Linked DNA regions of Homo sapiens. The protein of the gene in region 1 interacts with the protein of each later gene in a biochemical or structural test. Each region holds a gene or a part of one and is shown in the gene's direction. Other genes may lie near its edges.

Evidence for each region. The genes of interacting proteins can lie anywhere in the genome.
Region 2: the proteins of NSMCE4A (region 1) and TRIM31 form a complex in vitro, tested with the Homo sapiens proteins (one study listed by BioGRID).

What each region holds. Positions count from the first base shown.
Region 1 is NC_000010.11:121,968,616-121,972,263, reverse strand, and holds part of NSMCE4A (non-structural maintenance of chromosomes element 4 homolog A), read left to right. Parts: intron 1-1,194; coding exon 1,195-1,325; intron 1,326-3,648. UniProt on the Homo sapiens protein: Component of the SMC5-SMC6 complex, a complex involved in DNA double-strand breaks by homologous recombination. The complex may promote sister chromatid homologous recombination by recruiting the SMC1-SMC3 cohesin complex to double-strand breaks.
Region 2 is NC_000006.12:30,106,573-30,110,220, reverse strand, and holds part of TRIM31 (E3 ubiquitin-protein ligase TRIM31), read left to right. Parts: intron 1-1,172; coding exon 1,173-1,195; intron 1,196-2,033; coding exon of another isoform or gene 2,034-2,052; coding exon 2,053-2,168; intron 2,169-2,433; exon of another isoform or gene 2,434-2,558; intron 2,559-3,648.

The sequences.
Region 1 (3,648 bases):
CAACCTCTGCCCCCCCCAGGTTAAAGCTATTCTCCAGCTTCAGCCACCCGAGTAGCTGGGATTACAGGTGTGCACCACCATGCCCAGCTAATTTTTGATTCTTTAGTAGAGATGGGGTTTCACCACGTTGCCCAGGCTGGTCTCAAACTTTGGAGCTCAAAGTGATCCGCCTGCCTCGGCTTCCCAAAGTGTAGGGATTACAGGCATGAGCTGCTGTGCCCAGCCTGTTTCTGCATTAATTTAAATCTTTTTTTTCCATAGCTTTTCTTAAATCCCATGTCCTCTGTCAAGCCTTTTTTGAGTATCCGTCCTCGGGTCACTACCTGCTACCTGTAGACTGTTCATTTGGGTGGCTTTGCTGGGGTTGCCTGTGAAGCCATACAGAGGCATGAGCCTCCTAGTGCCAGCCTAGCACATGCCATGATTTTGGTTAGCAACTTTAGCAACTTACCTATTGCTTAGCAGCTTACCTATTGCTGTTCACAAACCACCATGCCAAGCACAGGGCCCTACATGTAGTGGGAATTTGATTTTCCTTACGTCAGCACACATGATCATCGTGATTAGGATGGAGGGAAAAGTGAGTATTAGACATGACGGGTTTTGCTCAACTGGAGTTATTTAAGAGATTGTGATTCAGCTAACAGTAGGAGAACTAGACAGAAAGCTGGCTTTTAGGAAGACTGGTCAGCTTTCATTAGAGATTTTGGTGAGTTGGGCACAGGAGAAAGTTTTTTTTTGTTTTTGTTTTTGTTTTGAGACAGCCTCTTGCTCTGACACCCAGGCTGGAGTGCAGTGGCGCGATCTTGGCTTACTGCAAGCTCTGCCTCCCGGGTTCACGCCATTCTGCCTCAGCCTCCCAAGTAGCTGGGACTACAGGCGCCCGCCACCACGCCCTGCTAATTTTTTGTATTTTTAGTAGAGCTGGGGTTTCACCGTGTTAGCCAGGATGGTCTCGATCTCCTGACCTCGTGATCCGCCCGCCTTGGCCTCCCAAAGTGCTGGGATTACAGGCTTGAGCCACCGCACCTGGCCAGGAGCACGTTTTAGAAGGAGATGTGTCAGTTGCCTATTGAGATTTTTTTTTTTTTTTAGTCCAGTGGGAAATCCTGGTAAGTAGTTGGAAATGTAGGGAAAAAGTCTATGGATAATGTGTATTTTGTAATGTGAATATTTTCTTTCTTTTTTGAATAGTGTCCCGAGCAAGAGAAGCAGTCCTGGATGCCCACTTTCTTGTTTTGGCTTCAGATTTGGGCAAAGAGAAAGCAAAGCAGCTGCGCTCAGACCTGAGCTCCTTTGACATGTTAAGATATGTTGAAACTCTAGTAAGTTCAAAGCTACAGACTCTGAATAAAAAATGTTCTGTTATATATTATAATTATTTACTGTGCTCATATCCATATGCAGATGATTTCACTTCATTCTTCTTTTTTGGTCTCAGATTCCTCTGTAGAGATCTTACCAATTTAAACAGACGAAAGTAGAACCATGTGGTGGAATCTTGGGTGGGGGCTTGGAGTAAAAATCTCGTAGCATTCTGTCTTAAGATGCTGGGTGCTATGGTCATTTGCCAATGGCCATTTTTCCTCTGTTCACTGGTGTTCTAGATCATTCTCAGTGACCTCAGACCTTTGTCCTGGGCTGGACAAAAGCCCACTCTGCGATGGCAGAGCTCAGCTGGAATTGAGTTAGGCCTGGCGAGAGGGCATGTTTTGGTCTGTCTTTGAGAATATTTCAAAACCATGTGAATATGATTGGGTTTTGCTTTTTTTTTTTTTTTTTTTTTTCCTTTGAGACAGAGTCTCGCTCTGTCGCCCAGGCTGGAGTGCAGTGGCGTGATCTCGGCTCACTGCAAGCTCTGCCTCCTGGGTTCACGCCATTCTCCTGTCTCAGCCTCCCAAGTAGCTGGGACTACAGGCGCCTGCCACCACGCCCGGCTAATTTTTTGTATTTTTAGTAGAGACGGGGTTTCATCATGTTAGCCAGGATGGTCTGGATCTCCTGATCTCGTGATCTGCCCGCCTTGGCTTCCCAAAGTGCTGGGATTACAGCCGTGAGCCACCTAGCCCAGCCAGGTTTTGCTTTTTTGGTTTTATGTTTTATTCACCTTTCTTTGTCTCTTGACAAGTTTGAATAGTGGTTACCTGCAATTCTAAAACTGTTCCTTGATGAATTTACCAAAAAAGAAAAAGCACACAGAGACTGACCTTGTATCTCACTTTGTTGTCTTTTTAAAAAATTCTATTCTGGCTGGGGGCAGTGGCTCACGCCTGTAATCCCAGCACTTTGGGAGGCTGAGGCGGGTGGATCACCTGAGGTCAGAAGTTTCAGACCAGCCTGGCCACCATGGTGAAAGCCCGTCTCTACTAAAAATAGAAAAATTAGCTGGGTGTGGTGGCAGGCGCCTGTAATCCCAGCTACTCGGGAGGCTAAGGCAGGATAATCCCTTGAACCCAGGAGGCAGAAGTTGCAGTGAGCCGAGATCGCGCCACTGCACTCCAGCCTGGGCTACAGAGTGAGACTGCACCTCAAAATCAATCAATCAATCAGTCAATCTGTCAATCTGAGCCAACCTCTGTCCTAGCACAGATAGCTGCACCTCAGTATGAATATTGCATTTCTAACTGGATGTTTATGTTAAATGGTTATTAAAATAATTTAGTACTATGAGATCTGATCAGATAATTTTTTTGTAAAGGCATGAGGCACCAGATTATTTCCAGTTTGTTTTTCAAACCTTTTCCTTTTTTTTTTTTTTTTTTAACTTTTTTTTATTGTGAAACATAATGCACTTAGGAAAGTGCACTGTAATATAGAGGTCAATAAAGTAACCATGTATTGGGTATTTCTTTAAAAATTACTTTATCAGGTTAAGCTCTATTTTTTTATTTTTTGAGACAGAGTCTTGCTCTTGTTGCCCAGGCTGGAGTGTTGCCCATGCTGGAGTGTTGCCCAGGCTGGAGTGCAGTGGCACGATCTCAGCTCACCGCAACCTCCACCTCCTGGGTTCAAGCGATTCTCCTGCCTCAGCCTCCCAAGAAGCTGGCATTACAGGTGCCTGTCCCCACGCCTGGCTAATTTTTAGTAGAGGTGGGGTTTCGCCATGTTGGCCAGGCTGGCCTCGAACTCCTGACTTCGTGATCCACCCGCCTGGACTTCCCAAAGTGCTGGGATTACAGGCATGAGCCACCGTGCCCGGCCAAGCTCTGTACTTTAAATAACATATCAAAATAAATTCTGGAAGTCTTAAAGCATTAAATATAAAACCTTAAATTAATAGTTGTCCAGTCTCTGGGTGGAGAAGACTTTCGTATGTATAGCATCAAATATAGACACTATAAGGAAAGATTGGTGGATTTCTCTGTCAGTTAAACAGACCAAAACTGCCACGTCTGCCTACAAGGGTGCAGTGGTAGTTCGGGCGGCAAGGGAATGGAGAAGAGCTGGCCATAGCGCTCTGACCAGGCTCTTGTAGCCTTTCTTTTCTTTAAAGTCTGATTGCCTTTAATAGGGTTAAGCTCCCTGAGGGTTTTGTGATTATTGTTTATATATGATATTGCCATCGTAATTGGATAACTTCTAGGCATTTTACAGTATAATGTAATAAAAATGTACTTTCATAAAAGTAAATTCAATATAACACATTTT
Region 2 (3,648 bases), on another chromosome or scaffold:
TCAGCCACATATGGAATTACAAATTTTTCTAGTTAGTCACATTAAAATGATAAAAGTGAAATTAATTTTAATAAAATATTTTAACTCAATATATCTGAAATATTATCCTTTCAGCCTGTAATGAATATTTTAAAAGTATTAATGAGATATTTCACATTCTGGGTTTTTGGTGGTTTTTTTTTTTTTTTTTTTTACACTGAGTCTTTGAAATTGTGTGTATATTTTTCACTTTGGCACATCTCAATTCAGATGCTAAATTGTCAATTGTTAAAGTAAAATATAGTCTTACCAAATCAATAAAGTTGTGTTTAATGGAAAAAGTACTTTACCCTTCTTCTATTTATTTTATTTTATTTTTTGAGATGGAATCTTGCTCTGTTGCCCAGGCTGGAGTACAGTGGCGCGATTTTGGCGCACTACAACTTCCGCCTCCTAGGCCCAAGTCCCAAGTAGCTGGGATTACAGGTCCCCACCACCACGCCCAGCTAATTTTTGTATTCTTAGCAGACACGGGGTTTTACCATGTTGGCCAGGATGGTCTCGAACTCCTGACCTCAAGTGATCTGCCCACCTCAGCCTCCCAAAGTGCTGGGATTACAGGCGTGAACCACCGTGCCTGGCCTCTATTTTTAATTTAAATTTGAATTAGTAAAAATGAAATTAAAAATTCAGTTCTTTGTCACACTAGCCACAATTTCCAATGTTCAGTAGCCACATGTGGTTGGTGGCTACCATATTGGACAGTGCAAGTCTAGCTGGTGCTTAAAATAAGCTGAGATGATTCCTCCTCAAGTCATCTATTCTCCCACAGGTTCAAAAACCTATTTATTTATTTTAAGAAAGATCATGCAAAGCCATTCTAGCCTTTCTCCTGCCCTGGCTAGCAGGCTCCCTTGTTCAGTCTCAGAGCCAAATTCATCTTCTAAATCTCACTCTTCTCTTCTTCACTCAGTTCTTCTTGAGGTCAAAACACTTTTCTGCTTACTGGCAGAGCAGTGCTTCTTGGAGAAGCCCTTCGTGGTGGGGAGAGGGGAGGAGGATGGGGTAAGAGAGACTTGGAGGGGTTCTTACTCCTCCTGCTCTGCCCCACACCCAGCAGGCTCTGTATCTCCTCCTTGGCTCCTGGGAATCAGCCAAGTGCTGAGGCTGTGCTGTTTCTCTTTCTCTTCTAGGATATCAAAGTCGTCTTGTGCAGGTATGATGGGCCACCCCAAATGTATTTTGCCTACTGATTCATCCACACACAATTCTCAGCGTATATCCAAATGCAGTCAACATTCCTCTCTCAGAAATACCCACCCACCTCTAACTCTGCATTCATACATTTAGGCTGCAGCCGGGGAATGCCTATGCCAACCATATTAGCACGTGGTTGGTTGTTAAAGAAACCAGCTGTTTTCTCAGCCTTCCTCCTTCTTCAGCACAGATTCTACTATTTCCTGAATGCCCCCTTGCTCAACTGAATAGCTCCTGGGTCCCCTACTCTGTCTCCCTGACCCTGTTTTTTTCCCTCCTCTCTGTCTCCATCTCCCATCTTCATTTCCATATCTCCCTATGCCCTACCTCACTCCCGCCCCATATCCCTAGCCCTGACTTTCTGACTCCCAGCTCACTATCCCTTAACCGCCAGGTCTTCTTTTTTTTTTTTTTTTTTTTTTTTTGAGATGGAGCTTTGCTCTTGTTGCTCAGGCTGGAGTGCAGTGGTGCAATCTCAGCTCACTGCAACCTTTGTCTCCCAGGTTCAAGTGATTCTCCTGCCTCAGCCTCCCAAGTAGCTGAGACTACAGGCGCTTGCCACCAAGCCTGGCTAATTTTCATATTTTTAGTAGAGACCAGGTTTTACCATGTTGGCCAGGCTAGTCTTGAACTCCTGACCTCAGGTGATCCACCCGCCTCAGCCTCCCAAAGTGCTGGGATTACAGGTGTGAGCCACTGCTCTCAGTTCTACCCCCAGGTCTTCATCCCCTCATTTCTCAACCGCGTATCTCAGATCCTCCTTCTCCCACACCTCATCCCCTGATCTCACCAACCAGCTCAACCACATCTTCCTAGAAGTGAAGAGTTTCAGTTTCTCAACCCAACCCCTGTTCCTCTGGAACTGGAGAAAAAACTCAGTGAAGCAAAATCAAGACATGACTCCATCACAGGGAGCCTAAAAAAATTCAAAGGTAAGGAAGAGGCTGTATTTTCTCTATTCACCTACTTCCAGGAGATTCTCTCCCTGCTCACTCCACTGAAATGGAACTGTGACTCATACATGCCAACAATCCCTGGGCCCTTCTAGTGCCAGGCTTCTGGCTGAGTACTTTCCACGCATCAGTATGCCTCCTCCCAGGCATTTCTTATATTCTGTCTTTGTGATATGTTATTTATCTGCCTCCCTGACTCCTGCGAGAGCCATAGAGGGCCTGGACCTATTCCCCATGTGGACACCTGGCCTAGAGCAGTGGCTGTTGGGAAGTTGGTGATGAGTTGTCTGGTGGACCAGAGATGGCCTCAGGCAGGGACTGTCATCTCTGACTTCTCCTTCTCTGGTGCACACTGGTGTCTCCTCCTGCCTACAGAAGAAGAGAAAATAAATTCAAAATCAGTGACATTCTGGGGAGAAACCTCTTCCAGCCTTACAGGGAAACAGAAATCAGCAGAACAGTAGTGGATGACTTGGGTTTTAGATGTTCGCCAGATATTTTTCATAAACCTTTCTGTGTTTGCAACTAGGAAGAAGGGTTAGTATTTGTAAGGACTCCCCTTAATGTGAAGACTGTGTTGGTCTAAGGTGGGCATAAAGACAGCTAGATGGAATCTTCTGAAATTATCACCTGGAGTTCCACACCCACCTCCCCCACCCCAACCCCCAGCCCCCCATACACAAACACTTCCCCTTGGGACTACGGAAAAGGAGGACCAGGGCAATGCCCCAAGATCTCCACCCATTCAGCCGGGAATCTCCACTCGGCAGACATAAACAGGAAAGCATGTTTTGTTTTATTCTTAATTTTGTTGTCTGAGCTTTTCTTTTGTCCACTAACTGCTCTGCTTTGTCTAGCTCCTCCCACCCCACTGGGCATGATCTCAGCCGATCTAGCAACTTTATTTATTTGTTTATTTATTTATTTATTTTTGATGGAGTTTTGCTCTTATTGCCCAGGATAGAGTGCAGTGGCGCAATCTCGGCTCACTGCAACCTCCGCCTTCTGGTTTCAAGCGATTCTCCTGCCTCAGCTTCCCAAGTCGCTGGTGTTACAGGCGCACACCACCATGCCCAGCTAGTTTTTTGTATTTTTAGTAGAGACGGGGTTTCACCAGGTTGGTCAAGCTGGTCTCGAACTGCTGACTTGTGATCCACCCGCCTCAGCCTCCCAAAGTGCTGGGATTACAGGCGTGAGCCACCACGTCCAGCCCGATCCAGCACCTTTCTAGGCTCTTCAGGTCAAGAATAGTTTGGTTCTAGTTTGGAATTTCAATAAAGGAGCCCAGCCCTTTCCACTTCATCAGGTTTGGAGTTGGGGAGACTGGTGTGCTCTACTCTGTATCCCCCTTTTCTTTCCCTCTTTCACATACACAAACTCACACACACACAGTCCCCCAACTCCCACCTGGCCCTATTTCCTTCTTTTTTTTTTCTCTTATTTTTATTTTATTTTTACC